7 linked regions of the Homo sapiens genome follow. The protein of the gene in region 4 purifies or fractionates together with the protein of the main gene of each other region. This does not show direct contact. Each region holds a gene or a part of one and is shown on either strand. Other genes may lie near its edges. The genes, in order: RBM25, NEURL4, TOPORS, NKAP, LCN1, AQR and CSNK2A2.

The links.
Region 1: the proteins of NKAP (region 4) and RBM25 purify together in Homo sapiens (affinity purification with mass spectrometry; one large-scale study listed by BioGRID and IntAct). This does not show direct contact.
Region 2: the proteins of NKAP (region 4) and NEURL4 purify together in Homo sapiens (co-immunoprecipitation; one large-scale study listed by IntAct). This does not show direct contact.
Region 3: the proteins of NKAP (region 4) and TOPORS purify together in Homo sapiens (affinity purification with mass spectrometry; one large-scale study listed by BioGRID and IntAct). This does not show direct contact.
Region 5: the proteins of NKAP (region 4) and LCN1 purify together in Homo sapiens (affinity purification with mass spectrometry; one large-scale study listed by BioGRID and IntAct). This does not show direct contact.
Region 6: the proteins of NKAP (region 4) and AQR purify together in Homo sapiens (affinity purification with mass spectrometry; one large-scale study listed by BioGRID and IntAct). This does not show direct contact.
Region 7: the proteins of NKAP (region 4) and CSNK2A2 purify together in Homo sapiens (affinity purification with mass spectrometry; 7 studies listed by BioGRID and IntAct, with this or other methods). This does not show direct contact.

The regions. Positions count from the first base shown.
Region 1 is NC_000014.9:73,064,447-73,069,044, forward strand, and holds part of RBM25 (RNA-binding protein 25), read left to right. Parts: intron 1-525; exon of another isoform or gene 526-647; intron 648-4,598. UniProt on the Homo sapiens protein: RNA-binding protein that acts as a regulator of alternative pre-mRNA splicing. Involved in apoptotic cell death through the regulation of the apoptotic factor BCL2L1 isoform expression.
Region 2 is NC_000017.11:7,322,214-7,326,811, reverse strand, and holds part of NEURL4 (neuralized-like protein 4), read left to right. Parts: coding exon 1-101; intron 102-263; coding exon 264-375; intron 376-468; coding exon 469-557; intron 558-1,098; coding exon 1,099-1,171; intron 1,172-1,338; coding exon 1,339-1,603; intron 1,604-1,831; coding exon 1,832-2,013; intron 2,014-2,331; coding exon 2,332-2,417; intron 2,418-2,541; coding exon 2,542-2,704; intron 2,705-2,799; coding exon 2,800-2,998; intron 2,999-3,088; coding exon 3,089-3,165; intron 3,166-3,248; coding exon 3,249-3,327; intron 3,328-3,688; coding exon 3,689-3,864; intron 3,865-3,945; coding exon 3,946-4,077; intron 4,078-4,598. UniProt on the Homo sapiens protein: Promotes CCP110 ubiquitination and proteasome-dependent degradation. By counteracting accumulation of CP110, maintains normal centriolar homeostasis and preventing formation of ectopic microtubular organizing centers.
Region 3 is NC_000009.12:32,542,523-32,547,120, reverse strand, and holds part of TOPORS (E3 ubiquitin-protein ligase Topors), read left to right. Parts: intron 1-2,794; coding exon 2,795-4,598. UniProt on the Homo sapiens protein: Functions as an E3 ubiquitin-protein ligase and as an E3 SUMO1-protein ligase. Probable tumor suppressor involved in cell growth, cell proliferation and apoptosis that regulates p53/TP53 stability through ubiquitin-dependent degradation.
Region 4 is NC_000023.11:119,923,462-119,927,349, reverse strand, and holds part of NKAP (NF-kappa-B-activating protein), read left to right. Parts: intron 1-1,955; coding exon 1,956-2,130; 3' UTR 2,131-3,888. UniProt on the Homo sapiens protein: Acts as a transcriptional repressor. Plays a role as a transcriptional corepressor of the Notch-mediated signaling required for T-cell development. Also involved in the TNF and IL-1 induced NF-kappa-B activation.
Region 5 is NC_000009.12:135,524,091-135,527,789, forward strand, and holds the end of LCN1 (lipocalin-1 isoform 1 precursor), read left to right. Parts: exon of another isoform or gene 1-412; coding exon of another isoform or gene 413-739; coding exon 740-841; coding exon of another isoform or gene 842-1,017; exon of another isoform or gene 1,018-1,041; coding exon 1,042-1,067; coding exon of another isoform or gene 1,068-1,068; intron 1,069-2,253; coding exon of another isoform or gene 2,254-2,427; 3' UTR 2,428-2,450; downstream 2,451-3,699. UniProt on the Homo sapiens protein: Could play a role in taste reception. Could be necessary for the concentration and delivery of sapid molecules in the gustatory system.
Region 6 is NC_000015.10:34,906,570-34,911,167, reverse strand, and holds part of AQR (RNA helicase aquarius), read left to right. Parts: intron 1-854; coding exon 855-1,033; intron 1,034-4,455; coding exon 4,456-4,598.
Region 7 is NC_000016.10:58,166,743-58,171,340, reverse strand, and holds part of CSNK2A2 (casein kinase II subunit alpha'), read left to right. Parts: intron 1-54; exon of another isoform or gene 55-871; coding exon of another isoform or gene 872-976; intron 977-2,647; coding exon 2,648-2,731; intron 2,732-3,545; coding exon 3,546-3,656; intron 3,657-4,032; coding exon 4,033-4,134; intron 4,135-4,598.

The sequences.
Region 1 (4,598 bases), on a different chromosome or scaffold from region 4:
TGCAGTGGCGCGGTCCCAGCTCACTGCAACCTCTGCCTCCCAGGTTTAAGCAATTCTCCTGCCTCAGTCTCCCGAGTAGCTGGGACTACGGGCGCCTACCACCATTCCTGGCTAATTTTTGTATTTTTAATAGAGACGGGCTTTCACCATGTTGGCCAGTCTGGCCTCGAACTCCTGACCTTGTGATCCGCCCGCCTCAGCCTCCCAAAGTGCTGGGATTACAGATGTGAGCCACCGCGCCCAGGAGAGGCCAGTTATCTTAAAGGAATATCCATAAAAATTAGCTGTTAACTGGTATTTTTGCCTTCACCTTTGAAGTCCAGCCTATCAACAAGCAAGTTTTGGCAGCTCCAAATAAAGGGGAATATGTTATGGAAAAATTTGAAGTGAATGGAATGGGTATATTGGCATAAACGAAAATTAAATATATCTGGTTAACTCTGCAGAATGAATTACACATTTAAAAACCATAAAATATAACTTAAATACCAAGAATATAGAGTTTTACTTTTTTTTTTTTTTTAGACGGAGTCTTACTCTGTCGTTCAGGTTGGAGTGCAGTGGCGCGACCTCGGCTCACTGCAACATCTGCCTCCCAGGTTCAAGCAATTCTCCTGCCTCACCTTCCAGAGTAGCTGGGATTACAGGTGCGCACCACCACACCTGGCTAATTTTGTTTGTTTGTTTGTTTGTTTTCTTTTGAGACAGAGTCTCACTGTGTCACCCAGGCTAGAGTGCAGTGGCGCGATCTCGGCTCACTGCAACCTCGGCCTCCCGAGTTCAAGTGATCTCCTGCCTTTGCCTCTTGAGTAGCTGGGATTACAGGCACCCGCCACCACACCCAGCTAGTTTTTGTATTTTAGTAGAGACGGGGTTTCACCATGTTGGCCGGGCTGGTCTCCAACTCCTGACCTCAAGTGATCGGTCTGCCTCGGCCTCCCAAAGTGCTGGGATTACAGGGGTGAGCCACTGTGCCCAGCTAATTTTTTTTTTTTTTGAAACTGAGTCTTGCTCTGTCGCCAAGGTGGAGTGCAGTGGCGCAGTCTTGGCTCACTGCAACCCCTGCCACCCAGGTTCAAGCAATTCCCCTGCCTCAGCCTCCTGAGTAGCTGGGACTACAGGCGCACACTACCATGCCTGGATAACTTTTTGTATTAGATACGGGGTTTCGCCGTGTTGGCCAGGATGGTCTTGATCTCCTGACCTTGTGATCTGCCTGCCTTGGCCTCCCAAAGTGCTGGGATTACAGGCATGAGCCACCTCACCCAGCCCAGTGTTTATATTTTTAGTGGAGACAGGGGTTTCACCATTTTGGCCAGGCTGGTCTCGAACTCCTGACCTCCAGTGATCTGCCCGCCTTGGCCTCCCAAAGTGCTGGGATTACAGGTGTGAGCCACCGCCCCTGACCGAGAGTTTTAGTTTTTAAGCATTATTTATATCTAATATTATTGGGGGAAAAGTGGTTTTAAAAATGAGTTCATGGCCCAGTCTTGTAACCATTGTGAGGCTAGGCACTGGGCCATTGCTAGAATATAGTATGCGGCATGAGATAGCATAATAAATTTGTTTATTGAAGTCCTCAGAGTTTGTTTACTGATTTATTCATTAATCAGTTTATTCAACAGGTATGAAAACCAACTATCCTAAGAAAGCACTGAGATAGGCTATTATAATGATAATAGAAGAGCTTCTGTAAGTAGGACAGTAGCCCTTTCTGTTTTAAAAAGAGATACCACCCCCAGTTTTTGGTTTTGGTCAAAAAGTTTTACAGAAAGTTTATTTTAAAACTCAACACATTTACAGTCTTGCAATCTTGTGTTTTTCATTGTTAATATGTACTGATAACCTACCTACTGTTTAAAACATTTCTAATACCTCATTTGCCAAGTATATTAAATCCTCCTAAGGGCTGGGCGCAGTGGCTTATACCTGTAATCCCAGCACTTTGGGAGGCCGAGGCCGACGGATCACTTGAGGCCAGGAGTTTGAGACCAGCCTGGCCATACATGGTGAAACCCCGTCTCTACTAAAAATACAAAAATTAGCTGAGCTTGGTCGTGCGTGCCTTGTGGTGTGCACCTGTAATCCTAGCTACTTGGGAGGCTGAGGCAGGAGAATCGCTTGAACCCGACAGGCGGAGGTTTCAGTGAGCTGAGATGGTGCCTCTGCACTCCTGGGTGACAGAGCAAGACTCCATCTCAAAAAAAAAAAAAAAAAAATGCATCCTAGGGATTCCTTTACCTATAAAGTTTTCTAAATATTTTAAGTATACTGTGTTTTCTGAAATTGAAGTTTAGTTTTATTGAATATGGTATTATCCCAATTTAAGTCAAAGGAATTCTGAGGAAGTAGAGCTGTGAGCATGTAGGTCATGCTTTTCTGTTTTAAAGAAATGTCTAGTAAACAGGTAAACGCATACTCAACCTCATTAGTCATGAGGGAAATGTAAATTGAAATAAGAGTATATTTTACTTATGAAATTGTGAGAATTTTGACACTGATCTATTCTACCAATGATGAGGATATGAGGAAAGGGCATACCCATATTCTGGTGGTGGGAATATACATTTATATGCTAGTTTTCAGGGATGATTTTGGAGGTAAAGTTTGGATACATATAATTTTTTTTTTTTTTTTTTTTGATGTGGATTCTTGCTCTGTCGCCCAGGCTGACGTGCAATGGCACCGTCTCGGCTCACTGCAACCTCCGCCTCCCAGGTTCAAGCGATTCTCCTGCCTCAGCCTCCTGAGTAGCTGGGACTACAGGCACCTGCCATCACACCCAGCTAATCAGATACATATAGTTCTAACCTGTATTAGAGAATTACCTGTACAGATGCATACAGTTATATGTCTATTATCTCCAGGAATGTTCAACATTATTTGTGAGAGCTGAAAGTGGAGCCAACTGTTAATGTTGGTTAAATAAATATGTCCGTATTATAATAATTTACTGCATTATTATTATTTTATTATTTTTGAGGCAGTCTTGCTCTGTCACCAGGCTGGAGTGCAGTGGCTTGATCTCGGGTCACTGCAGCCTCCACCTCCCGGGTTCAAGCAATTCTCCTGCCTTAGCCTCCCAAGAGCTGGGACTACAGGCATGTGCCACCACGCCTGGATAATTTTTGTATTTTTTTCATGTTTTATTGCCTGTATTTTTTTTTTTTTTTTTGAAACAGAGTCTCGCTCTGTTGCCCAGGCTGGAGTGCAGTGGCGCGATCTTGGCTCACTGCAAGCTCCGCCTCCCAGGTTCACGCCATTCTCCTGCCTCAGCCTCCCTAGTAGCTGGGACTACAGGCGCCTGCCACCGCACCCAGCTAATTTTTTTTTTTTTTGTATTTTTAGTAGAGACGGGGTTTCACCGTGGTCTCGATGTCCTGACCTCGTGATCCACCCGCTTCGGCCTCCCAAAGTGCTGGGATTACAGGTGTGAGCCACCGCGCCCGGCCTGTATTTTGTTTTTATATGTATCATTAATTCTTAAAAATTAAGATTTTGAATCTCTTTGGATATTTATTAGGCTTCAAAGATCTTGATGGAGCAGTCTGAGTTGACTGCCAGTTTCTTAAGTTGGCGGTAAGGCTGGGGTGCAGCGCACACTGGTTTAGCGTGAGCAGTGATCACTAAGCACATGAGCTACGACCACCCCAACTTTACCTCGTTCACAGACAGAACTGGAAGGTTGGTCCTAGATGGCTGCTTGGTCCTGGATGCTTTAGTGGTCTCTTGATATGTGGAAAGCCTTGTTTTGGAACAAATGTTTCCATTGATACAGATGAGAAATGCCTCTTTAATATTTTTATAAACCATTTAGACCCCAATAGATTTGGTTTGTGGGTCACTCTCTTGTGAGTACCAAAGGATTTCATGGTTGGAAGGTGTGCCTTTTCGTCTTGGCAGTGAGCAGCATTTAATGGAGAGACAATGCTTGTATTTGATTTTTTTTTTTTTTTTTTGGTTCATTTACAGGATCTGAGACTTATTCAGACTACCAGCTGTATTATCAGGAAGGAACAAATCCAAGTTTTGACGTATTGTCAGTGTGCCGCATGTTGTATTTTCAAATTCCTTTAGTGGTTTTAACATTAGATGACCAATTCTTTGGCACTGATGTGCTTTTGCCAGTGTACGGTAGATCTGACCATGGCTCTGAGAAGTCTGGCTGGCATTACCACATCCCAAGCTCTCTGTCCAAAGAGAAGGAAGCGCCAGGGACGCACGCTTCCTTGGCTGGACTGCAGGAAAAGAGCTGCAGCACCAGCCTCTCATTACTGCAGCCACCCCCTCTCCTAATTTTTGTATTTTTAGTAGAGATGGGGTTTCACCATGCTGGCCAGGATGGTCTCAATCTCTTGACCTTGTGATCCACCCACCTCGGCCTCCCAAAGTGCTGGGATTATGAGCGTGAGCCACCACGCCCAGCCAATTTACTGCATTATAAAGGTGGAATAAGACTTTATTTTTATTTTTTATTTTTTTAGACAGACTCTGTCACCCAGGCTGGAGTGTAGTGGCACGATCTCAGCTCAGTGCAAACTCCGCACCCTGGGTTCAAGTGATTCTCTTGCCTCAGCCTCCCGAGTAGCTGGGATTAC
Region 2 (4,598 bases), on a different chromosome or scaffold from region 4:
GCAACAATAATAAGACGGCTGAGCGCCGGCGGCCCCTGGATGAATTCAACAATGGGGTTGTCATGACCAATCGCCCCCTTCGGGACAATGAGATGTTTGAGGTGTGCAAAGTCCTGTGGTCTGGTTGGCGCCTTATCCCTGGGAGCTAAAGATGGGGATTGACCCTTGGTGCTAGGAGGGTGGGCCCTGGGGAAGAACCAAGGGCTGAAGGTCCCTTTCTGCATTTACATTCCCTGCTTCTCCCTTCTGTCCCTCAATGCCAGATCCGTATCGACAAGCTTGTTGATAAGTGGTCAGGCTCCATTGAGATTGGGGTCACCACCCACAACCCCAACAGTTTGGAGTACCCAGCCACCATGACCAACCTCCAGTCAGGTACCAGCCCCGGGCAGGGGCGGGGGTGCAGGCCTGGTGTTGCTGAGGGGAAGGAAGCCCCGTACCCGAACCCAAGTGTCCACTATCACCCAGGCACCATCATGATGAGCGGCTGTGGAATCCTGACCAATGGCAAGGGCACCCGCCGGGAGTACTGCGAATTCAGTCTGGATGAGTTGCAGGTGAGGGTGGGGCACAGATCCCTGGGCCGCTTTCAGCAGAGCCACAGGTACTCTGTGTCCCTGCCAGGGCACCAAGCAGGGTCTCCTATGTGACCTAGAGGCAGTCCCTGTATCTTCCACCTAAAGGTTCCTTCCTAGAAGCCTGAGTTGCCCAAGAGTTCAGCACTCAGATTTTGGAGTCAGATGGTTGAATTCCTCTTACTGTTTTCCCATTTGTAGTAGCGAACCGGGGCAAGAAGCTTATCCTCTTTGATTGCTCCCCCACCTCCTGCAATCTCTAAAATGAGCCTACGAGTAGTACTTATTCCATAGGCTGAGACTTGTAGAAGCTAATGTCTGTGAGGTGGTTTAACTCAGTGCCTGACTCACGTGGAGCATTGACGAAATGTGGAAATTGTCATGTCTGGAAAACAAGGACCCAGGACCTGTCCTCCAGGGTGGTCTGAGACTCTCACGAATACCTTCTGGAGTTGTTCCTGTGTGGAGTGGGGTGCTGAGCAGGCCTCAGGACTCCTCTAAACTGTTTGTCTTCTTTGATTAGGAGGGTGACCACATTGGCCTCACAAGGAAGTCCAACTCTGCCCTACACTTCTTCATTAATGGTATCGATCAGGGTAAGGGCCGCCCAGAGAGAGCCTCTGGGCCGGGGCTTTCGGTGGGGCTGGGACTGGGGGCTGTACCTCATCCTCCTGCTTCTCTTTGGTGCTTGGCCTCCCTGTGTTTGACTTTCTCCCCTCATTCTCCCTGTCCACTCCCACACCCCCGTACCTTCCTGCCACAGGAGTGGCAACCCCCTTGACGCCCCCAGTGGTGTATGGTGTGGTGGACTTGTACGGGATGGCAGTGAAGGTGACCATCGTCCACAATAACAACCACAGTGACCGTCTCCGCCGAAACAACGCCATCCTGCGGGCGCTGTCCCCCGAGGGTGCTCTCCGCCGTGCTGCCCCTGCCGCCCAGGCAGAACCTGAGCGCCTGCTCTTCCACCCCAACTGTGGGCAGAAGGCAGCCATCACCCACGAGGGACGCACTGCCCTGAGGCCCCAGTATGGCCCATGGGGTGGGGAGAAGCCTGAAGAAGGGATTCTAATGGGGGGGGGGGGGCGGGGCAAGGAAGTGGAAGGCAGAGGGAGCCTGGCGGGGGCAGCTTCCTGGAGGTTGAGCTTTAGTTCTTTGGCTTGGGGCAGTGAGTGTTGGCAGGCATTGCTGGGCTAAGCCTTGGCACATTGAGAGCGTGTGTTGGGGATCTGACTCTCCACTTGCTGTGCCCTCAGTGCCACCGATGACTTCAATCACGGCGTGGTGCTGAGCAGCAGAGCCCTGCGGGATGGAGAGGTGTTCCAGGTGCGCATCGACAAGATGGTGGACAAATGGGCTGGCTCCATTGAAATTGGTGTCACCACCCACAACCCTGCCTACCTCCAGTTGCCCTCCACCATGACCAACTTGCGCTCTGGTGAGCTCCCAGGAAGGGCAGGGACAGGATAGGGTTTTGGGGGGAAGCTATCCCCAAAGCCCTGGCACTTGTTCTGCAGCTCCTTTTTCACTTGTCACTCTTGTGACCACTCATTCAGTGGCTAGAGAGTGTCCCGTGGGCAGGGCTGTGGCTGTCTTGGAAGCTGCAGAGTTTTCTTGTCCTGCTCAGGGAAGAAATCTAGTCATCAAAGAAAAGGCAAGGTGGACTGTGGGCTCGGGAGTCCTGTGGGCGCTGCTGTGGCAAGGAGAGGAGCCCTGCATTTCCCCTCATGTCCCCTCCTGCTCCTTGTCCTCCCAGGGACCTGGATGATGACTGGGAATGGGGTGATGCACAATGGGACGACCATCCTGGATGAATACGGGCACAATCTGGACCGCCTCAAGGTGGGAAAGTGGGTGCGCCGCCTGGCGGCCGCAGCGGGCATCACAAACACCGCGGGGCTGATGCAGGACCAGCCCCGGCAGGAACTCTGCCTGACTCCTCACTCCAGCACCCCCTTCTTCCAAGGCAGGGGACACGGTGGGCGTGGTACGGCGGGAGGACGGGACTCTCCACTTCTTTGTCAATGGGATGACTCAGGGCCCTGCTGCCTGGAACGTGCCCCCGGGCGTCTATGCTGTCGTCGATCTCTATGGCCAGGCGGCCCAGGCCACCATTGTGGACGACGTGGGTGAGGGCCGGGCTGGGCTGGGGCTGGGGGTTAGGGTGGCCTTGGGAGGTCTGAGAGACACCTAGAGACCTGATGGGTGATGTCCACTTTTACAGAGGTGGCTCCAGTTCCTGAACCACTCCCTGAGGGGAACAACCAGGTGTCTCCAAGCTCTCCGTCCTCAGGGGCCGGGGGCTCTGACCTGCGCTTCCATCAGCTGCACGGCAGTAACGCAGTCATCACTAACGGGGGCCGCACCGCCCTCCGCCACAACTGTCGCAGCGAGTTTAATGACGCCATCGTCATCTCCAACCGGTCAGTCTCTCAACTTTCATGTCCCCACCTTCCTCCTGCCCAGCCTCAGCCATGCAAGTAGAGCCTCTCTGATCGCCAGTCTCCTGGCAGGGCCCTGCGGGATGGAGAGCTGTTTGAAATTGTCATTCAGAAGATGGTGGACCGCTGGTCAGGCTCCATTGAGGCTGGTGAGGGCCGTCTGTGTGTGTTGGGGGCTGTTGGATGTCTGTGCCTTGGGGATCGGCCTTGACTTACCCCTGCCTCCTCCCAGGAGTGACTGCTATTCGGCCTGAAGACCTGGAATTCCCCAACACCATGACAGACATTGACTATGACACATGGATGCTGAGGTTGGGCTTCCTGCTTTGGGGACCAGCTTGGGGCTGAGTGGAGCTGGCTGGGATCAGGGAAGCAAGGTTTGGGCCTATGGTGGCTGTGGGTAGTGACAGACCTAGGGGATCTACCTGTCCCCTCCCCTTGAATTCTGGGAAGTCCTGCCCAGGCCCACAGGGGCTCAGTCCTCCTTCATCTTAGGCAGTTCTTGCTTTTTCCTAAGGGGATCCCAGGGACAGAGGAGATAGGATTGGGCCTTACACCCAGATCAAGACACCAGCCCAAGACATTGGAGGGTTCTGACAGACAGGGAGTGGGCAGGGGCCAATGTGAAGTTGAAGTTGGCAGGCTGACTCACCCCTTCTGCCATCCCCCCAGTGGTACAGCCATCATGCAAGACGGTAACACGATGCGCAACAATTATGGGTGTGACCTGGATGCGCTGGGCACAGGTGCACGCATTGGCATGATGCGAACTGCCAAGGGCGACCTGCACTACTTCATCAACGGCCAGGACCAAGGCGCTGCCTGCTCGGGCCTGCCTCCGGGTAAAGGTGACTATGTGGCTTTCAGCCTGCCACCCTCAGCCCAGACCACCTGGCTGTCAGGCTTCTGACCTTCCCTCTCCTCCCCAGAGGTGTATGCGGTAGTCGATCTCTATGGCCAGTGTGTCCAAGTGTCCATCACCAATGCCACCGGCCCCATGGACAACAGCCTGGCGACCAGCAACACTGCCACCGAGAAGTCCTTCCCACTGCACTCCCCAGGTGCGGCAGCAGGGCGGGGGCTGGACGGGCTCTGCTTGCCTGCTGTGCACCTGAGGAGTAGGGTTTCCAGGTTAGAGAGGTTCTGCAAAGACGGTTGGCTGGGGTAGCTGCCGGCTCCAGGGAAGGGACAGCCCACGGTGGCAAGCAGCCAGTGAGGGGGAGGTTACACCTGGTACTTAGAGCCTGGACACTTCCCTGCCACCAAGGGGCCAGGACACCATAAGCTGAGCATGCCAGGTTTGGAAATGGGCCTTGCTGTGGTGAAAAGAGGTATCAGGGCCGGGCGCAGTAGCTCACGCCTGTAATCCCAGCACTTTGGGAGTTCAAGGCAGGTGGATCTCTCGAGCACAAGAGTTTGAGACCAGCCTGGGAAACATGGCGAAACCCCGTCTGTACCAAAAATACAAAATGTAGGCAGGTGTGGTGGCATGCACCTGTGGTCCCAGCTACTTGAGAGGCTGAGGTGGGAGGATAGCTGGATCCCAGGAAGTCGAGGCTGCAGTGAGCCACGACTGTGCCCC
Region 3 (4,598 bases), on a different chromosome or scaffold from region 4:
ATGGGATTACAGGCGTGAGCCACCGTGCCCCGCCTCTTTGATGTTTCTGATGAAGACTGTTTGTTTGTTTGTTTGTTTGTTTTGAAACAGGGTCTCATTCTGTCACCCAGGCTGGAGTGAGGTGGTGCAATTATGGCTCACTGCAGCCTGGACCTCCCAGGCTCAGTTAATCCTCCTGCCTCAGCCTCCTGAGTAGCTGGGACTACAGGTGTGCCCATCATGCCCGGCTAAGATTATTCTTTTCAGCTAATGATTCCTGTGTAGAAATACAAGAATGAATTCTAATTTATTATTATTTTTTAACCTGTTATGGAGGACATTACCAGTCATTCATTCACCTTTTACTGTCAAAGTGGTTAACAGGCTTATAAAACTAGAGAAGGGAAGGGTAAGGTTTCATTTTTTTAAAAAAATCATACTTTGTTGAGATTTTATTTTATTTGAACTTCAAGTTTACTACCTAATAATTCCCTTTAATAAATTCATTTTCAGCTGTAATTTTTATGTGAACTGGAAGTGTTCAGAAAACACTAAAATTCTATTTCAGAGAACTAAGTGAAGATAAAATGTATTAACTTGGAATTCACGGGTCTTTTTTCCAAGTCCAGTAATCCCTTCATTATATAGAGGAGAAAACTAAAGTCTAGAGTAATGTGGTTTTCTTCACATTAACTAGAGCTAGTTCTAGGTGAAGCCTGGTCTTCAGTCCAGATCTTTTGATAACCTCTTTGATTCCCTCCCAACTTTTCTCTGTTCCTTCCCTCTACCACACACACAGTCTCTGAACTGAAAGGTTTTTATTTTTATGTGTGTGTTTCTTTAAATTTCTTGAGTAGGCAGATTAAAAAATGTTAAAAGTAGAGGGAAATGCTGAGAAGGTTGTGCAGTATTAGGGTTTTAGACTGTTTATGAACAAAAAAGCAGTATTATGTATTTATAATCCTGCTTTTCCAGACCTTCCAGGACAGTGATGATGTTTTTGCATTTTCAGTCCAGTAAATAGAAGACTAGACATACCTGGACCCCTGAAGAAACGCTTATTTAGCATTAATTGATTCTCTATTAAGTTATGGTTCTGAGAAAGCCAAGATGCCCTAAAGTGAGCAGGTTTAATATGAAAGCTATGGTGGAATACTTGTATTTCAGTCATGAGTTTTTGTTGTGGGTTTTGTTTATTGGTTTTTCTTATAGTTTGTTAAGGCCAATGAGTCTATTTAGAAAATTACAATTCTGTTATTTGATTAACTTGACCCCAGTTGACTAGTGATGGAACCTCCTGTGATAAAGGAGGTGGAGGAAGATGAATATTAGGCCCTGGGAAACCAAGGGCCTAGTAGTTTTTTGTTGTTGTTTGTTTATTTGTTTTGAGACAGAGTTTCACTCTTGTCACCCACTGCAATGGTGCAGTCTCAGCTCACTGCAACCTCTGCCTCCTGGGTTCAAGCGATTCTCCTGTCTCAGCCTCCCAAGTAGCTGGGATTACAGGTGCCTGCCACCATGCCCGGCTAATTTTTGTATTCTTAGTAGAGACAAGGTTTCACAACGTTGGCCAGGCTGGTCTTGAACTCCTGACCTCAGGTGATCTGCCTGCCTTGGCCTCCCAAAGTGCTGGATTACAGGCATGAGCCACCGCGCCTGACTCCCCAATAGTCAATATACTCAAAATGATTAGTATAAAATGCAGCTTTGGAGTTTATGAGATAAAGTCAAAACGCATACTAGATTTCAAGCTCTAGCAAAGTTTTGAGCCAATGTAAACTGATAAAACAAACTAATCTTTAATATTCTAGTCATCCTTATGGGAAAGGATAATAGGGAAGGGGACCAAAAACATGATTTCAAGATATTCTGTGGCCTGACTTTTGGATTAAAGAAAAAAGCTAAAGGAAGGCTTATTAGGAATGCTGAATGGAATGAGTGATTAACTGAATATAATAGTGTAGTAATAATAACAGCTGACATTTACTCAGCACCTACTGTGAGCCAGGCACTGCCTCTTGGCTGCTTTTTCATTTATTATTTAATCTTCACTAAAAGTTTCCTCTCCCTTTTTAAAATTAGCTTTCTAAGGTTGAAAAAAGAATCTTTCACTAAAAATCATAGGATTGGTTTAAACAGGTGAACTTTCTGGTATGTAAGTTATGTCACCAAAGTTGTTTTAGAAAAGTACATACAAAATATCACAGATAAATCAGTAGTCTGTATTGTTAGTGGCATATGTATATGAAAGGTATAAAGCCATGCATAGAAATAACATCAACTGAGGAGTGTGGTGTTTTTGTTTTTTGTTTTCTAGAGAGTGATAGGAGGGGAAGATAAGGGGCATAACATAAGTGGTGGATACATGGGTATTTGGTACTTTTTTTTTTTATATGTCAGATATTTCTCAAATTATTTTTAAAAAGAATAATAGAATGTTACATAATATTTGAGAGCTTTACTATGTAGCAGGTGCCTTTTCTAAGGGCTTTTTACATCTTCACAAACCCTGTAAGGCAGATTCTGTTATCACTGACCTGCAGATGAAATTAAAGCACAGAGATACTAACTGGCACATAGTCACGCTGGTAGTGTGGAACCAGGATTCAGTCTTAGGAAATCTGACTTCAGAGCTTATGCTTTAAGCACTATATTACTATGCTACAGTGCCCCTTTATAAAATAAAACAAAAGTAATGGGTCACTTAAGTATTTTCACCAAAATAAGTTTCAAGGTCTTTATTTGCATTTTTGTTGAGACTATTTAGTCATTCCTCTATTATCAGGTTACTGATATATTTCTTTCCCTTTTACAGATAATGGCATCAGCTGCTAAGGAATTTAAAATGGACAACTTTTCACCTAAAGCTGGCACTAGCAAATTGCAACAGACAGTACCAGCTGATGCATCTCCTGATTCTAAGTGTCCTATATGCTTGGATAGATTTGATAATGTGTCTTACTTAGATCGCTGCTTACATAAGTTCTGTTTTCGCTGTGTACAGGAGTGGTCAAAAAACAAAGCTGAATGCCCACTATGTAAACAGCCCTTTGATTCTATTTTCCATTCTGTGAGGGCAGAAGATGACTTCAAGGAGTATGTCCTAAGGCCTTCGTATAATGGTTCTTTTGTCACCCCTGATCGACGATTTCGCTACCGTACAACTCTGACAAGGGAACGAAATGCTTCTGTGTATTCACCTAGTGGTCCTGTGAACAGAAGAACAACAACTCCACCGGATAGTGGAGTACTGTTTGAAGGGTTAGGCATTTCAACAAGACCTAGAGATGTTGAAATTCCTCAGTTTATGAGACAGATTGCAGTAAGGAGGCCAACTACGGCAGATGAAAGATCTTTGCGGAAAATTCAAGAACAAGATATTATTAATTTTAGACGAACTCTTTATCGTGCTGGTGCTCGAGTTAGAAATATTGAAGATGGTGGCCGCTACAGGGATATTTCAGCTGAATTTTTCCGTAGAAATCCAGCTTGCCTTCACAGATTAGTCCCCTGGTTAAAACGTGAACTTACAGTTCTTTTTGGAGCTCATGGATCTTTAGTGAATATTGTCCAGCATATTATCATGAGTAATGTTACTCGCTATGACTTGGAGAGTCAGGCATTTGTGTCTGATTTAAGACCATTTTTACTTAATCGAACTGAGCATTTTATACATGAATTTATCAGTTTTGCCCGATCTCCTTTTAACATGGCAGCCTTTGACCAGCATGCCAATTATGATTGCCCTGCTCCTTCATACGAAGAAGGCAGCCATTCTGATTCTTCAGTCATAACAATATCTCCAGATGAGGCTGAGACCCAAGAGCTGGATATTAATGTAGCCACTGTTAGTCAGGCACCATGGGATGATGAAACTCCAGGACCATCTTACTCAAGCTCAGAGCAGGTACACGTTACTATGTCTTCTCTTTTAAATACTTCTGACAGTTCAGATGAAGAACTTGTCACAGGAGGAGCCACGTCTCAGATACAAGGAGTACAAACCAATGACGACCTAAATAATGACAGTGATGATTCTTCAGATAATTGTGTCATTGTTGGGTTTGTTAAACCACTAGCTGAGAGGACCCCAGAACTTGTTGAACTGTCCTCTGATTCTGAGGACTTAGGTTCTTATGAGAAAATGGAGACAGTGAAGACACAAGAACAGGAGCAATCTTACAGTTCTGGTGATAGCGATGTTAGTAGATGCTCATCTCCACACTCTGTCCTTGGAAAGGATGAACAAATAAATAAAGGTCATTGTGATTCTAGTACAAGAATCAAATCAAAGAAGGAAGAGAAACGATCTACATCATTGTCATCTCCCAGAAACCTGAACTCATCTGTAAGAGGAGACAGAGTATATTCTCCATATAACCATAGACACAGAAAGAGGGGAAGATCAAGAAGTTCAGATTCACGTTCTCAGAGTAGAAGTGGGCATGATCAGAAGAATCATAGAAAGCATCATGGGAAGAAAAGAATGAAAAGTAAACGATCCAGAAGCAGGGAAAGTAGCAGACCTAGAGGGAGAAGAGACAAAAAGAGATCAAGAACTAGAGATAGCAGTTGGTCCAGAAGAAGCCAAACTCTGTCTCTAAGTAGTGAAAGCACAA
Region 4 (3,888 bases):
AATAAAATTCAGAGCCCAAAGATAACCATACACGTATGGAACTTCAGTGTATGAAAGAGATAGCATGTCAGATCAATGGGGAAAGAAAGAACTATTCAGTACATGAAATAGGAGGCTGAGGCAGGAGAATCGGTTGAACCTGGGAGGCGGAGGTTGCAATAAGCCGAGATTATGCCACTGCACTCCAGCCTGGGTGACAGAGGGAGACTTGGAAGTTAAATCCACTGATAAAAACTGCTGTTCAATTACAGATTTAGACTTGGTTCTTTTTTTTTTTTTTTTTTTTTTGAGACCTAGTTTCACTCTTGTCTCCCAGGCTGGAGTACAGTGGCGCAATCTCAGCTCACTGCAACCTCCACCTCCTGGGTTCAAATGATTCTCCTGCCTCAGCCTCCCAAGTAGCTGGGATTACGGGTGCCCACCACCACACCCAGCTAATTTTTGTATTTTTAGCAGAGACGAGGTTTCACCACGTTGGCCAGGCTGGTCTTAAACTCCTGACCTCAGGTGACCTGCCTGCCTCAGCCTCCAAAAGTGCTGAGATTACAGGCGTGAGCCACCATGCCCAGCCTAGACTTGGTTCTTTTGGTTTTATGGTAAAGTAGAACCTTGAAGGAAGTTCCATCTGATTAATGACTAGTTAAATGTTTTATCTATCCTACTTCCAATTCCACAAAGGCAAATGGATATGTCACCTAGGAAGTTTAATAATTTGCCCATTTCTGATTGTTTTACTGGAAACAAATTAGACGTATACCCTTAGTATTTGAAATTAATGATAGCGGCCAGGCATGGTGGCTCACACCTGTAATCCCAGCACTTTGGGAGGCCAAGGCAGGTGGATCACCTGAGGTCAGGAGTTCGAAACCAGCATGGCCAACATGGCGAAACCCCATCTCTACTAAAAATACAAAAATTAGTCGGGCGTGGTGGCACACACCTGTACTCCCGGCTACTCGGGAGGCTGAGGCAGGGGAATCACTTGAGCCCAGGAGGCAGAGGTCGCAGTGAGCCAAGATTGTGCCACTGCACTCCAGCCTTGGTGACAGAGCCAGACTTTAAGACTCACAAAAAGGAGAAAAGAAAAAAGGATAGGCCAGGCGCGGTGGCTCACGCCTGTAATCCCAGCACTTTGGGAGGCCGAGGTGGGTGGATCATGAGGTCAGGAGATCGAGACCATCCTGGCTAACAAGGTGAAACCCCGTCTCTACTAAAAATACAAAAAATTAGCCGGGCGCGGTGGCGGGCGCCTGTAGTCCCAGCTACTGGGGAGGCTGAGGCAGGAGAATGGCGTGAACCCGGGAAGCGGAGCTTGCAGTGAGCCGAGATTGCGCCACTGCAGTCCGCAGTCCGGCCTGGGCGACAGAGCGAGACTCCGTCTCAAAAAAAAAAAAAAAAAAAATTAAAAAAAAAAAAAAAAGAAAAAAGGATAACATTTACTATGTTGACAGGAAATCAGAGATCATTATTTGAATAGTGGAAATGAATCAAAGACATATCAGGGCCGGGCACGGTGGCTCACGCCTGTAATCTCAGCACTTTGGGAGGCTGAGACAGGCGGATTACTTGAGGTCAGGAGTTCGAGATCAGCCTAGCCAACATGGTGAAACCCCATCTCTACTAAAAATGCAAAAATTAGCCAGACCTGTTATCTCAGCTACTCAGGAGGCTGAGATGGGGGAATTGCTTGAGCCAGGGAGGTGGAAGTTGCAGTGAGCCGAGATCGTGCCACTGCATTCCAACCTAGGCAACAGAGCAAGACTCCATCTCAAAACAAAACAAAAAAAAAGGACGTGTCAGGCAGCTAAAATATTAATAAATGATCTTTTGGAAATTTAACCCATTTCAATTTTTGTCAGCTGTTAAATAGACCACTCTGGGTAAGAAAGGATTAATGATGATGTACTATGAAAATAATTACTGAGAAATTAAGCCAAAAATAAAATTCTCTCCAGGCATCGCCGAATGGAGGCTGTGCGACTGCGAAAAGAGAACCAGATCTACAGTGCTGATGAGAAGAGAGCCCTTGCATCCTTTAACCAAGAAGAGAGACGAAAGAGAGAGAACAAGATTCTGGCCAGTTTTCGAGAAATGGTTTACAGAAAGACCAAAGGGAAGGATGACAAATAAAGATTTTCTGATTGTCCAGAAGACATTTTTAACAACAAAAAAGAAAGTCTGGGTTCCACACATACATAGAAAAAGATTATTATGTTCTGAGAAAGCTTTACAGTGCTACTGTGCCTTCTATTTAATTCTTTCAGTCCTTCAATAAAAAGCTGCTTATTGATATAACTTTAGCAAGTTCTTTGGGTTATTTTGGATTGACCATAGTAACTTTCTGGTTTAAAAATCCAAATTATGGGCTGGGCACGGTTGCTCACGCCTGTAATCCCAGCACTTTGGGAGGCTGAGGCGGGTGGATCACTTGAGGCCAGGAGTTCGAGACCAGCCTGGCCAACATGGTGAAACCCTGTCCCTACTGAAAATACAAAATCAGCCAGGAGTGGTGGCGCACACCTGTAGTCCCAGCTACTCGAGAGGAAGAGGCAGGAGAATTGCTTGAACCTAGGAGGTGGAGGTTGCAGTGAGCCGAGATTGTGCCACTGCACTCCAGCCTGGGCGACAAAGCAAGACTGTGTCTCAGAAAAAAATAAAAGGCCAGGCACGGTGGCTCACGCCTGTAATCCCAGCACTTTGGGAGGCCAAGGCGGGTGGATCACCTGAGGTCAGGAGTCGAGACCAGCCTGGCCAACATGGTGAAACCCTGTCTCTACCAAAAAATACAAAAATTAGCCGGGCGTGGTGGTGGGCGCCTGTAATCCCAACTACTCGGGAGGCTGAGGCAGGAGAATTGCTTGAATCCAGGAGGCGGAGGTTGCAGTGAGCCGAGATTGTGACATTGCACTCCAGCCTGGGCAAGAAGAGTGAAACTCTGTCTCAAAAAAAAAAAATCCAAATTATGAATAAAATGCTACTGTATTGGAGGAGGTGGCTTGAACAAAAAGTGTTAGTGAGATGAGAAACTTCAATCTCACACCATGAGACAGTGCTACTATTAGCTCTATGTGATGCCTGCCCCACCCCGACCTCTACCCCAGCTGAACTTTTGGGAAATTATCACTCCTCTGTGTTGAATGTGTTATAAATGGACTTGATAGGAACATATAGGAGGCCACTTTTGTTAACAAAATGAAGGCATTGCTGCGAAAAGCAAATCTGGAATTTGAAAACTGACTTGTGTACTATAATATATGATCTACCCTGGAAATAATGGGTTTTGATTTAAGTCCCTACCTCCACTCTAAAACCAACAAACAAACCAAAAAGCAAACTAACCCACAGATTTGTTGAATTGAAAATGTGAACATTAGATATTTTAAATTGTTTTTTTTGAGATGGAATCTCGCTCTTGTTGCCCAGGCTGGAGTACAATGGGGTGATCTCGGCTCACCACAACCTCCACCTCCTAAGTTCAAGCAGTTCTCCTGCCTCAGCCTCCTGAGTAGCTGGGATTACAGGCATGTGCCACCATGCCTGGCTAATTTTGTATTTTTAGTAGAGATGGGGTTTCTCCATGTTGGTCAGGCTGGTCTCGAACTCCCAACCCCAGGTGATCCGCCCGCCTTGGCCTCCCAAAGTGCTGGGATTACAGGCATGAGCCACTGCGTCCAGCCTAAATTCTTAATAAGTTACTTAAAAATAGTTATTTGAAATATAAAGTCTTAAGAAGTCTACTCTTATCCCCATGTAAATACTTTATTTCAATCTGAGCTGATATGAGCTTGAGGATAGGATAACATCCAAAAGAATAGGAGTCAACTATGGTCAAGAGTTTTGATAAGGAAAAATATAATGAGTCAGTATTTTAGCTTAATTGTTTCATAA
Region 5 (3,699 bases), on a different chromosome or scaffold from region 4:
CCAGGAACCCACTGCAGTTTTCTTAGGATGAGTTTTCCTGATAAAGGCCTCAATTCCCACCCCTGGAGTTCAGGATTTGGGATGCCCCGGCCTCGGTATCTGCAGCAGAGGCAGGAAGGAGCCACGGCTGCAGGCACAGGGGTTCAAAGGTCACACATGTCCCAGAGTGGGCCAGGCCCTCCCCCGGAGCAGCTCCCTGCAGTGTCATCCTTGAGCGCGTTCCTGTGGGGTGTCCAGCAGGAGAGAGGAACAGGGATGTGAGCAGAAGTCTGCATGGAAAGAACGTTCCAGCTCCCGGGGTTGAATTCCGGACGCGGTGCCTCCCACAGATGGTGACTCATCAGTGCTGTCCCTGTCAGAGGACGAGGCCCATGAAGGCTCCTGAGTTCTCCCTGGAGCCAGGGGTGTGCGAATGACAGAGGATTGGGATCCTGGTGCCCCCAAGGGGAGAGGCGCTTCCTCCAGGGTGGGCCTGTCGTGCCGTCCATCCTCACTCCGGGAGATGCTCAGGGATGGATGGAGAGCCCTTCCCGTTCTCCCGGTTCTGCTGCCACAGGAGCCTTCTCAGCCGTGCACGGCACCCTGGTCCCACTTTGCCAGCCTGAGGGCCTCTGGGTTCAATTCCCCCCACGGTGGGCGAGGTCCCCTTCCCCAGCCCAGCTCAGGCCTCCAGACTGGGATGGGGTGCCGTCGGCCCAGTGCTGCCTCGAGCACCCACATCTCGTCCTGGCACCCACAGGCAGAGACCCCAAGAACAACCTGGAAGCCTTGGAGGACTTTGAGAAAGCCGCAGGAGCCCGCGGACTCAGCACGGAGAGCATCCTCATCCCCAGGCAGAGCGGTAGGAGGCATGGCCCTGCAGAGCCCCCCATGTCCCCGCGTGGGGACATCAGCAGAGCTGCATTGCACGGGCGCATAACTGTGCTGCGTCTAATTCTGGCTTTGTCCTTCCTGGGGTGGTGGAGCTGGTGGCTGATGAGGGGCCCCGGTCCTGACTGCATTCCTGGGGTCTCCTAACGCCTGTGCTTCCTTTTCCTGCAGAAACCTGCTCTCCAGGGAGCGATTAGGGTGAGTGAACAGCTTTAGAGGACATTTGAGAAAATCCAGTTCTGGGGCTCAGTGGTGCTTCCAGAGGCCATGGGGTCTCTCCCACCCATCCCACTCCTACCTGGGTGGGAGATGCCCCACGTAGGTCAGGCAGGTGGGAGCTCTGCTCCTGAGCTGCCCACGCTCGGGCGTCAGACTCCGTTCTTGCCCTGGGTGTGACTCCTGGGCAGCTGGGAAGCCCACAGCGCTGAGCCCGCCTTTGCTGGCTGCTGGTGGAGACGGTGTCTACCCCCCAGTCACATGGGCAGGAGCAGGCAGGAGATTCGGGTTCCTCCTCAGCACCCCTCACCCTCGGCCATGCCTGTGACTCCACTTACCCGATAAGTTGCTCAAAGATTCAGCAAAGTGGCAGGCGTGCCTGTGCTCGCTGTGTCAGATGGGCCCCTTGCTGGCTGCACAAGGGGACCAGAGTTTGGAGACTCGCCCAAGGTCACCTGCCCAGGTGTGGGCAGAGCCAGAATCCTGGACAGCATCGCTGTCCTTCCCGCACCCTCCCCTTGGCCTGCAGTCACCCTGATGCCACTTCACTCAGCAGGGAGCTCTGTCAGCAGCCTGCGGGGGTGGTCCCTGCTCCATCCGCTCCAATCTAGAGGCTGGAGCCCCCACCTGCAGCCCCCAAGAGTCCGTGTGTGCCCCCCACACCATCGCCCCCAAGAGCTCGCATGTGCCCACCACACCATAGCCCCCTAGAGCCCGGTGCACGTCCCCCACACCATTGCCTCTGAGATCCAGCACGTGCCCCCGCAACCATCGCCCCCGAGAGCCCGCATGTGCCTTCCACCGTAACCCTCAAGAGCCCAGTGTGTACCCCCACCATAGCCCCCGAGAGCCCACATGTGCCCACACACCATAGCCCCCGAGAGCCCACATGTGCCCCCCACACCATGCCCCTGAGAGCCCACATGTGCCCCCCACACCATCACCCCTGAGAGCCTGCTGTGCCCCCCACACCATAGCCCCCGAGAGCCTGCATGTGCCCTCCACATCACAGCCCCCAAGAGTGCAGCGTGTGCCCCCCACACCATGCCCCTGAGAGCTCACATGGGCCCCCACACTGCAGCACCCAAGAGCCCACATGCGCCCCCACATTGCATCCCCCTCCCACCCTTGCTGTCCTGGCCTCACTCACCCTCCCCCCCTTTCCAGGGCAGGGGACACCTTGGCTCCTCAGCAGCCCAAGGACGGCACCATCCAGCACCTCCGTCATTCACAGGGACATGGAAAAAGCTCCCCACCCCTGCAGAACGCGGCTGGCTGCACCCCTTCCTACCACCCCCCGCCTTCCCCCTGCCCTGCGCCCCCTCTCCTGGTTCTCCATAAAGAGCTTCAGCAGTTCCCAGTGACTCCGCCTGTCTGTGGGGTCCCTCGGGGTGAGAGGTGCTGGCTGGGTGCTCTTTTGGGTGCAGGGACTGGGTGGGAAGCAGGAGGAAGGACAGGGAACCAGCCTGGACCCAGTTCTCCCTGGTGGGTGCCACAGGCCAACAGTGGGAGGGGCCTAGCAGGGGGGTGTGTGCTGGAGGCTGGGCCTGAAGGTCCCGGGGTGCTTCCTGCAGGTCAGCCGCCCGCTGAGCTCAGGCTGTAGGGGTTGCGGGGGTGGGGGCAGGGCTCCACTCCTCGGTCCTGCACAAGTAAGACCGGAAGGCCTGGGACCAAGCGCAGCTGCCACCCAGAGGGGACTGGGCAGAGCCACCAGTGCCCTCAGCACTGATGCTGAGTCCGTGAGGCTGGACGTGGGGGGAGGGGACAGCAGCTCAAGGCAGGGTGTGGCTCGGGCTTGAGCTCACCGGGGAAGCCAGTCCTGTCCTCCGGGGAGCCACACCAGCACTGCCCCCAGAGCCTGGCTCCACGCTGTCCCTCTCTGTGCCTGGGTAGGTTTGGGACAGCAAGTTCCCAGCTTGGGGGCAGCCACCAGAGGTCCCACCTGGCACAGGCGCCTTTCCTGACCCTGGCGGTCTGTAGGATTTAAAGTTTCTTTCGATGGCGCAACATCGCACAGTGACGCTGGGAGCGAGGAGAGGCAGACTCTTAGTGACTTGCTGCTCCGCAGGAGAGGGCAGTTGCCAGGCAGGGCCACACGGGGTGGCTTGAGCCTGGGACAGGACAACAGCCTGCAGAGCTCAGGGTAGGGAGCAGAAAGTGTAGCGGGTGACCCGGCTGCCTGTGGCCAGCTAACATGGGTCATTTCTCTGCTCCAGGGCTTAGGGGCTGTCCCTGGTTGTCTGGTACCTGGCTTTGGAGCAATGAGGGCTGGTGGGGAGCGGCCCCCCAGTGGGGCCGTCTGATTAGCGCAGGGCTGCCGTGTGGACCAATCAGCTGCTCAGGAAGGGGCCGGCCCCTAACCAGGCCTCAGTGCTCGATTCTGGCCAGGCATGGTGGCTCAGGCCTGTGTTCCCAGCACTCTGGGAGGCTGAGGTGAGAGAATCACTTGAAGCCAGGAGTTGGAGACCAGCCTGGGCAACATAGCGAGACCCCATCTCTAAAAAAAAAAAAAAATTAGCCAGGCTTGGTGGCGCAACCCTGTAGTCCCAGGTACTCGGGAGGCTGAGGTGGGAGGATTGCTTGAGCCCAGGAGGTCGAGGCTCTCCCTCATGC
Region 6 (4,598 bases), on a different chromosome or scaffold from region 4:
TGTGTGTGTACATATATAAAAACACACAATGGGATATGATTCACCTTTTAAAAAGAAGGAAATCCTTTTTTTGACAACATGGATAAACCAGGAGTACATTATGCTAAATGTATTAAGCCAGATACAGATAGACAAAAACTGATTATCTCACTTTACATATGGAATCTAAAAAAGGCAAATTCATAGAAGCAGTAGAAGGGCAGTTATCAGGTTGTAGGTGGGGAAAATGGGGTCATGTTGGTCAAAGGGTCTAAACTTTCAGTTACAAGATACATAAGTTTGGAGATCTAATGTAAAGTATAGTGACTATAATTAATGTTTTATGTACTTGAAACTTGACAGGATAGATCTTAAGTATTCTTACCACACACACAAAAAATGCTAACTGTGTTGGTAATGATATCACAGTGTATACATAGTTTAAAACATCACATTGTATTCCTTAACTATATACAATTTTTATTTGTCAAGTATACGTCAATAAAGCTGAAATAAAACTAAGTGTGCTGGATTATTTATTTCTTTGATAAAATGGCTCAGCCCCAGAATGCTCTTATGTACATAGGGTTAGCTTTTTTCTTAGGTTGGAGAGGAGATATTCCTCTACTTCTCTTTCTTTTCTGGACCATGTTTGCCTGTTTCATGCTATCATATCCCTGTTTCATGCTATCTTATATACTTTGCATACTTTGAGAGTTAAAGGTTTTCTTTTTTTTAAGTTAAGAAATAAGAGTTACTAATATTAGGACTTAAATACTAGCTGAACAGTATTCCTACTTACTAGTTTTAACTTGTCTAAAAGTTGGGGATAAATTATTTTTTGTTTGAGTAATCATCCATTTCTTTGGTTTCAGGCAATCTGAATATGGCGGTGTAGTGTTTGGTGGTTGGGCGCGAATGGCCCAGCCCATTGTGGCTTTCACTGTCGTTGAAGTGGCCAAACCCAACATAGGTGAAAACTGGCCAACCCGAGTTCGTGCAGATGTTACCATAAATCTCAATGTCAGAGATCACATCAAAGATGAATGGGAAGGTAAGTTTGTATTTCAAAAAGTGACATTACCTTTTGCCTTGTTATGAACTTTCACTTAGAGCATTAACAAAGTACTTTTACTAAATGTTATCCTTTAAAGCTTTTATTAAGCGTTATCCTTGAAATTTGATTTAAAGAATAGCAACTTTTTTTCTAATTATTAGTTTTAAAAATACCAGGGATCATACAAGAATATTTAGGTATCTTAATACTTTAATAAAAAGTATAAAATTGCATACATATCAACGTTTTGAAAACTGAAGTTTGCAAAGCCTAGAGGAGAGCATTTTAAGTCTTAAATTTAGCAAAATAATATTTATGGATTTCTGGCATCAATATAAAAGAATAAAAATATTAGTGTTCACCAAAGAGCAGGGAGAAAGCCCACATATAACATACAAACATGCAGAGCAGTAAGGAAAATTGGTATTTTTCAAAAGATAAAAGTAGCCAAGGTGAAAAAAATAGAAATACATACACTTTGTGGAAAATAAAAATTAGGCAAGCTTAAAAAGAATATGTGGGGGTGGGCAGGGCTATAGTGAAACAATTCAGAAATAAATAATAGTTTATTTGCGCCTAAGGCAGAAAGGATAAAGAGTCAGTGAAGTCAAATGTAGTCAAGGATATATAATAATTGCAAAGAAATTAAAGGAGTTATTCCTCCTATTTTTGCTAGGCAAGATTTTAAGGATTAGAGTTCCATGTCAAAATTAATTTGTTTTGGAGGCAGATATGTTCAAAATTACTAAGTCCAATAGAGTTAAAACATCAATAAGACCTCTGCCAGAAGTGACATATGAACTGATTTCTAATAGGCAGTTTTATATTTTTCTCCCAGCTGTCCTGTGAGAGGTCTTACTTAAAGCCCTGTTTTGAGAAACAGTAGTCAGTAGGTTTTACCTCCTTTTACCTTCTTGGCATGCCAGAAGGAAAGGATGTCCCTTAATGGATCTGTTTTCAGAAATTATTACTACCAGTGTAGCTGTTTATAATCATGGGAACTATATCAAAGAATTCTGAAGGAATCCAGCAACAAAGCTAGCCAAATGTTTAACAAATGCCTACTGTAGCGGGTATAGTTTATGACAGATTGTTTTATAACCCTTGTATCCTTCAAAAGAGTTCCATCCTGGTATATTACTCATCTAGACTAATGTGCACCTTTATTATTGCTGAGCCTCGAGAAAGCCATTAAGTTGCTGGAGAAGGTCTCATATTTATTATTCCTTGAAGCTTAAGGAGATATTAAACACTGTGGGTAATAAACTGAGATAACTTACTGGGTACCCCCAGAAGTAGTAGATAGTTGGAATTTTGTTTATTTTAAAGGACTCTATAGGAATTTATAGATGAGAGGTCTGCATTTTGGTGTTAAGGAAAACAAAAGGATGTTTAAAAACAGGCCACTTCCCCCATTACTGACTGCTTTCAGAAGGACATGAGACAGTCTTTTTTTCTTTTAAACATCAGCCTCTGGTAGAATGAGAACTGGACAGGGTACATTTTGATGGGCAAGATAGGGCACAATAGGGTATTGTGGGATGAGTGATAATCTGGGGTATGATGGAGAGAAAAGTGTTTTATGGGAGGCCTGGGCCAAAAACCAGCCCCTATATTGATCACAGATAGGGTAGCCAAATAGAAAATGGAGTAAAAAGGAGAGATTCTGTAAACAATAATACATTTTTTTTTTTTTTAGACGGAGTCTCACTCTGTCGCCCAGTCTGGAGGGCAGTGGCACAATCTCGGCTCACTGCAACCTCCACCTCCTGGGTTCAAACAATTCTCTGCCTCAGCCTCCCGAGTAGCTGGGATTACAGGCACCCGCCACCACGCCCAGCTAATTTTTTGTATTTTTAGTAGAGACGGGGTTTCACCATCTTGGCCAGGCTGGTCTTGTGATCCACCTGCCTCAGCTTCCTAAAGTGCTGGGATTACAGGCGTGAGCCACCGTGCCCAGCTGAATATTGTTTTATAAAAGTAAATTTTAAAGATTATTAAACTAAATACCATAAAACATTCCTTTTGTCCCTTTGAAAAGGTGTGAACCTCAAGCCCTTATCTTCTTCAATATTCTCATTTAAAGTTAAGGAAACAGAATTCATGAAATGGAAATGCCAGATTTGCTCCAGAAAGCACAGCTAGGATAGGGTGGATACAAATGGTTGCAAGGAGAGAGACATATAGGATTTTAAAAAATGTGGATCTAAGATGTCCCAGAGTAAAGTGGTTTGTTTTAGGAAGGAACAAGAGGTCATCCCTCAGTGATGCCAAAAAGTAACTCCTATCTTGGGAGAGGATAAATGACTTCTCAGGACCACTTCTTTGGCTGTAAGACTTAGAAGTTTTAATGAGCTGTGCAGATCAGACATCACACAGGTAGTACAACTCAGAGAGTAGGATGATTCCCATTCATTCTCATTACTTCTCTTGCTGCTTTGCATAGAATTTATTGGGAAATAATTAAGTCAGTATTATGAATAGAGTTATTATTTCTACCTTTACCCATACTCTAACCAGTCCCCCAATTAAAACAAACCAAAATATTTTCAGTACTATTAGCCATATGCCCACATTGTTGATTTGATTTCATTGTGTTTGTTGTTAACAAGGTTGTGAGCAAGCAGACTGTTTACATTTACATTTATGTCATGTAATGGCTAACAAAAACATCAGAAATGGAATGAAGATTAAGTGGTGTAGCATTACATGCTGTGAGGTCTAATTTTATAATCCTTGTCTTCCAGTTTCTCTACTTTTAATAGAGCTGGGAAGCCATTTGAGTTCTTTATTGGGTCTAGTGACCAAGAAGCTGTGGACTCTGGCACAAGTCTCCTTTTTCTTGACATTCACTTATAAAAATGTTCACGATTTGCCAACTGAAACTGTATATATTCAGCCATCTTTCTCAAGATCATACCTGTAAACAATACTTTTTTGCCTTGATTAATTATTCTTGAGTTGACCTGTTTTAGTGAAATACAATTAGGCTGTCTTTGGAATGACACTGATAGATAGTTTAAACTGATATTAAAAACCTGCTAAATATGCTATAGATGGATTATATGCCAGCCATATTTTTGGTTACTTATTAAGATTGTTAAAAATAAGAATGATGACGAACATCCAATTTTGGAGCTGTAGCATGACTTGGAGGGCTTATTCAGTAATATATTCATGGCATGAATGTTTCTAATTTTAATATAAAGAAGTTTTCATTTCAATTAATGCTATGAAATATTGAGTATTAAAGATTATAGAAAAGCCCATAATTGTGTTACAATGCGATAATAATCATTGGTCACTCAACGGTATCTCTCTACCAAAGATAAGAGGTAGAGAGGCAAATAAGAATTTGCCTACAAAAGACTGAAAACAATGAAATTCTAATAAATGAAAATGTCTTTATATCTTACCAGGTCTTCGTAAGCATGATGTATGCTTTTTAATTACCGTACGTCCCACAAAACCTTATGGCACTAAGTTTGACCGGAGGAGACCTTTTATTGAGCAGGTTGGCCTGGTTTATGTCAGAGGCTGTGAAATTCAGGGCATGCTGGAT
Region 7 (4,598 bases), on a different chromosome or scaffold from region 4:
CTGTTGGTCAGGCTGGTCTCAAAACTCCTGACCTCGTGATCTGCCCGCCTTGGCCCCCAAACTGCTGGGATTACAGGCGTGAGCCACCACGCCTGGCCATAACAAGCATTCTATATTGTATACTCTTGGTTCAGGGAAAAGCACAGATCGAGGGAGCTTATTCCTGGAATGCTAATCCTAGGGCTCATTCTCTGCCTTGTGTACTCCTCCAGCATGAAGAAGTCCATTCAAGTGTCCTCAAGAGTCTAGTTTATTGCTTCTTATCCAGGTCAAGCTTGTCCCCCAGGGGACATTGGGCAAAATCTGGAACCATTTTTGGTTGTTAAAACTGGAGGGGGGCTCTAGTGGTAGGTAGAGGACAGGGATTCTACTTGAAGAGTATTTCATTGACCTTGTGTAGGATTCAGGTGCTTGTTAAGATTAGCCAAAGGTCCTGAATTTGAAGTTTATGAAGATAGTTATTATGTTAGGCAAGGGAGATTTAGAAGCAAATTTTTACATTAAAAAAATGGAGCTTAACAATCTAATAAATGATTGAAAGATTTGAATCAGCATTTCTCCAAAGAAGATTTAGAATGGCCGGTAGACACATAAAAAGAAGTTCCACTTCATCACTCATTATGGAAATAAAAATCAAAACCACATGGAGATACCACTTTACACCCACCAGCAAAGCTATAATCAAAAAGTTGAACAATGACAGGTGTTGATGAGAATGTGGAGAAACTTGAACCCTCAGGTTGCTGGTGGGAGTAAAAGTGACGCAGCCACTTTGGAAGATAATTAGGCAGTTTCTTAAAAGTTTAAACACAAATTTAGCATACAACCCAGCACTTCCACCCCTAGGAATCTACCCAAGGGAAATGAAAGCATGAGTGGAAACAACCCAAATGTCCATCAGCTAGTAGTGGAATACTACTCAGCAAGGAAAAACAACTTGGATGAATCTCAGAAACAGTATACTGAAGGAAAGAAGGTAGACAAAGCACTATACATGTATGATTTCATATTATGAATGTACAGAAAAGGCAAATCTATACCAGCAAATAGCAGGTCAGTGGTTGTGGGCAGGGCACGGAGGGGTTGGGAGAAGTTAGGAAAGGGGATTGACTACAGACAAGCTCAAGAAAAATTTTAGGAGTGATGGAGATGTTCTAAAACTGGATTGTGGTAATGGTTGCACAGCTTTTTAAATTTGTGAAAAACCATTATATACATAAAATCTTATCTGCATATCAATCATCTTAAACAAAGCAATTTTCTCCCTTGGAATAATATGTAATGATAATTGTTTTTTTTTTGAGACCCGCTTTGTTGCCCAGGCTGAAGTGCAATGGTGCCATCTCGGCTCACTGCAACCTCCGCCTCTCAGGTTCAGGCAATTCTCGTGCCTTAGCCCCACAAGTAGCTGGGACTAGAGGTGCCCACCACCTTGCCTGGCTAATTTTTTGTATTTTTAGTAGAGGTGGAGTTTCGCCATGTTGGCCAGGCTGGTCTTGAACTCCTGACCTGAAGTGATCTGCCTGCCTCCGAAAGTTCTGGGATTACAGGCATGAGCACCATGCCTGGCCTTATAATGATAAGTCTTAAAGGCTAGCTGGCTCAGGGATTATATTAAGGAAAATACTAATACTTGGTCATCTAGAAAACCCACGTGGGACCCTTATGTACAAAATAAGCCATACTGAAAGATGTATTTGAATGTCATTCTTCATGTCCACATAGATGCTGGTCTGTCCTTTGAACCATTATGAGAGGTGACTCCAGTGAGGTTCCAAAGTCTGGTTTATCATCCCACACACACACCCCCCTCCCCACTGCCCGCCTTTCTTGCCCAGGCTGGAGTGCAGTGGCACCATCTCAGCTCACTGCAGCCTCCACCTCCCAGGTTCAAGCAGTTCTCCAGCCTCAGCCCAGTCGAGTGGCTGGGATTACAGGCACGCACCACCACGCCCAGCTAACTTTTGTATTTTTAGTATAGCCGTGTTGCCCAGGCTAGTCTCGAACTCCTGACCTCAAGTGATCCACCTGCCTCGGCCTCCCAAAGTGCTAGGATTACAGGCATGAGTCACTGTGCCTGGCCTCATCACCCCCTCTTTTAAAGAAATCTTCCTCGGCTGGGCACAGTGGCTCACACCTGTAATCCCAGTACCTTGGGAGGCCGAGGCTGGCGGATCACGAGGTCAGGAGATTGAAACCATCCTGGCTAACACGGTGAAACCCTGTCTCTACTAAAAATACAGAAAATTAGCTGGGCGTAGTGGCAGGCACTTGTAGTCCTAGCTACTCGGGAGGCTGAGGCAGGAGAAGGGCGTGAACCCGGGAGGCAGAGCTTGCAGTGAGCCGAGATTGCACCACTGCACTCCAGCCTGGGCGACAGAGCAAGACTCCATCTCAAAAAAAAAAAAAAGAAATCTTCCTCATAGCCCTTGCCATTCCCTTCATACCCCCTTTCTACCAGCTGTAGTGTGCAGAGAGAGCAAGGGGTGCCTTCTGAAGCACGCTTTTTTTCTCTTTCATTACAGGCAGCAAGCTGCCCGTTGGGGGACTGTATTCAAGTCAAGGTGTCACAAACAATAAGACTATGCTTGCGTTGGGGGATGGTAGAGGGGTTGCTTACTATTATCTGTGCTTTCTTACCTAATAGGCTCTGGATTACTGCCACAGCAAGGGAATCATGCACAGGGATGTGAAACCTCACAATGTCATGATAGATCACCAACAGAAAAAGGTACCATTACAGCCAGGCAGCAACAAGCTTGATTAAAAGGCTTAGAGCAGACCAAAAAGCTGTCCAGTGCCATGATGGTTTCTGTAGACCCGTGGTGGGTTTTTTGGCAAACTTTCGTTACTGTGATTTCTCCCATCTCCATTGTTGATTTCTACTTTGTATAGTGTAGTACACAAGGAAAGTAGACGGTTTAACTATAGTAACTAACTATAGTCACTTGTTTATTTTGGTCATAGTTTTCTGGAGGGCCTCAGAAAGAAATTACAGCTGGTGGTTTCTGCTTCATTTCTTGATGACCCGCAGACCAATCTGCCTGGCCTTAAAAGAACACTTGGGTCCCTCCTATTTTTGATATCCAACTCTGTTGGCCCTAATCAGTGAGTAAATGGATCATCTAGTATTAGACGAATAAATCATTAGAGCAATGCTTCAGTCCTGGAGTGGGATGTGTGTCCCCAGCCCTTTCACTGACGCCTGGAGCTTATAACGAAAAGCTATGAATGATGGGAGAATGTGTTACCAAGTGTAACTGCCTACAGTTTCTGAATGTGGGCAGAAAAAAAGGTTGAGCTCTGTTGATCTAGAGAGAGGGATGAACCAGGATAATTTAAAATTTTTTCAAAAAGCATTTCAAGTGTTCTGCTCTAAAAATGACCTCTTGCACGATTGCTGAAAATGTAATTTTTAAGCCAGTGCACCTGCTCACATTTTTTGTGTGGCCAAATGATTGTTACCTAATGTGATGTGGCCTTGTTCTAAGGCATAGGCGTCTAGAAACACTCCTTTCACATGTTTTTTTCTGTCCTATTTGTAGCTGCGACTGATAGATTGGGGTCTGGCAGAATTCTATCATCCTGCTCAGGAGTACAATGTTCGTGTAGCCTCAAGGTACTTCAAGGGACCAGAGCTCCTCGTGGACTATCAGGTAAACTTGTTAGCAGAGCTATTCTGGGTTATTTATACTTGCTTAGGGCTTTTCTGGTTTGCTGTTGATCTAGTCAGTTTGAATACACTCAAAACCCAGCCATTATTTCACCCTAAAATGCTGATTTTAGTTTTTTCTCAGCTAGTTTTTTGGGGGGACAGAGAAGTTTTTAAATCTAAAATATCTGCAAAGGTTAAATGAAGACTAGAAATTCAGATCATTTCTAGGAGCCAGGAAGTTAAAAAAAATTTTTTTTAAATAAATTATCTATGGCCATACCACCCTGAACACGCCCAATCTCGTCTAAAAAAGAAATTTATATCAGAAAAATGGATTTCTAATACCCTTGGCTAATGCGTTGTCCTTATTGCCTCAGATGTATGATTATAGCTTGGACATGTGGAGTTTGGGCTGTATGTTAGCAAGCATGATCTTTCGAAGGGAACCATTCTTCCATGGACAGGACAACTATGACCAGGTGAGCAAATGCTTTCTGGTTCTTATTTATTTGGGGGTGAATGCCAAAAAAATAGCATCCTTAGATAAGAATACTATCCTTGAGCCACTAAGTATCACTCAGTGTCTGCATATGAGCTTTTCTTCAAGATAAAGATCGCACAGAATTTTGTGTTTACCAGGTCCGCAGAAGTAGAGGCAGATAATGCCATCTATGCCAAACTTCCAAAGTGAATCTGTGAAGAAGTCAGGCACCTCCTTGTCTAATAAAACTAGATTTTAGTCATTAGATTGTGATGCCCTGTACTGGTCCACCTCTAGAAGATTATTATCGTAAGTTGTATTATTTTAAAGGCCGTTTGGAAATTTGCATTCATGTGAACTTCTTGTCCTTGGGTCTGTCTGCCTGCCCTGGACCTGGGTTTGTATCTCGTTCCTAGAGGTTTAGTGGTGTGGAAGTCTTCTGATTCCTTGGTGCAGTGTCCT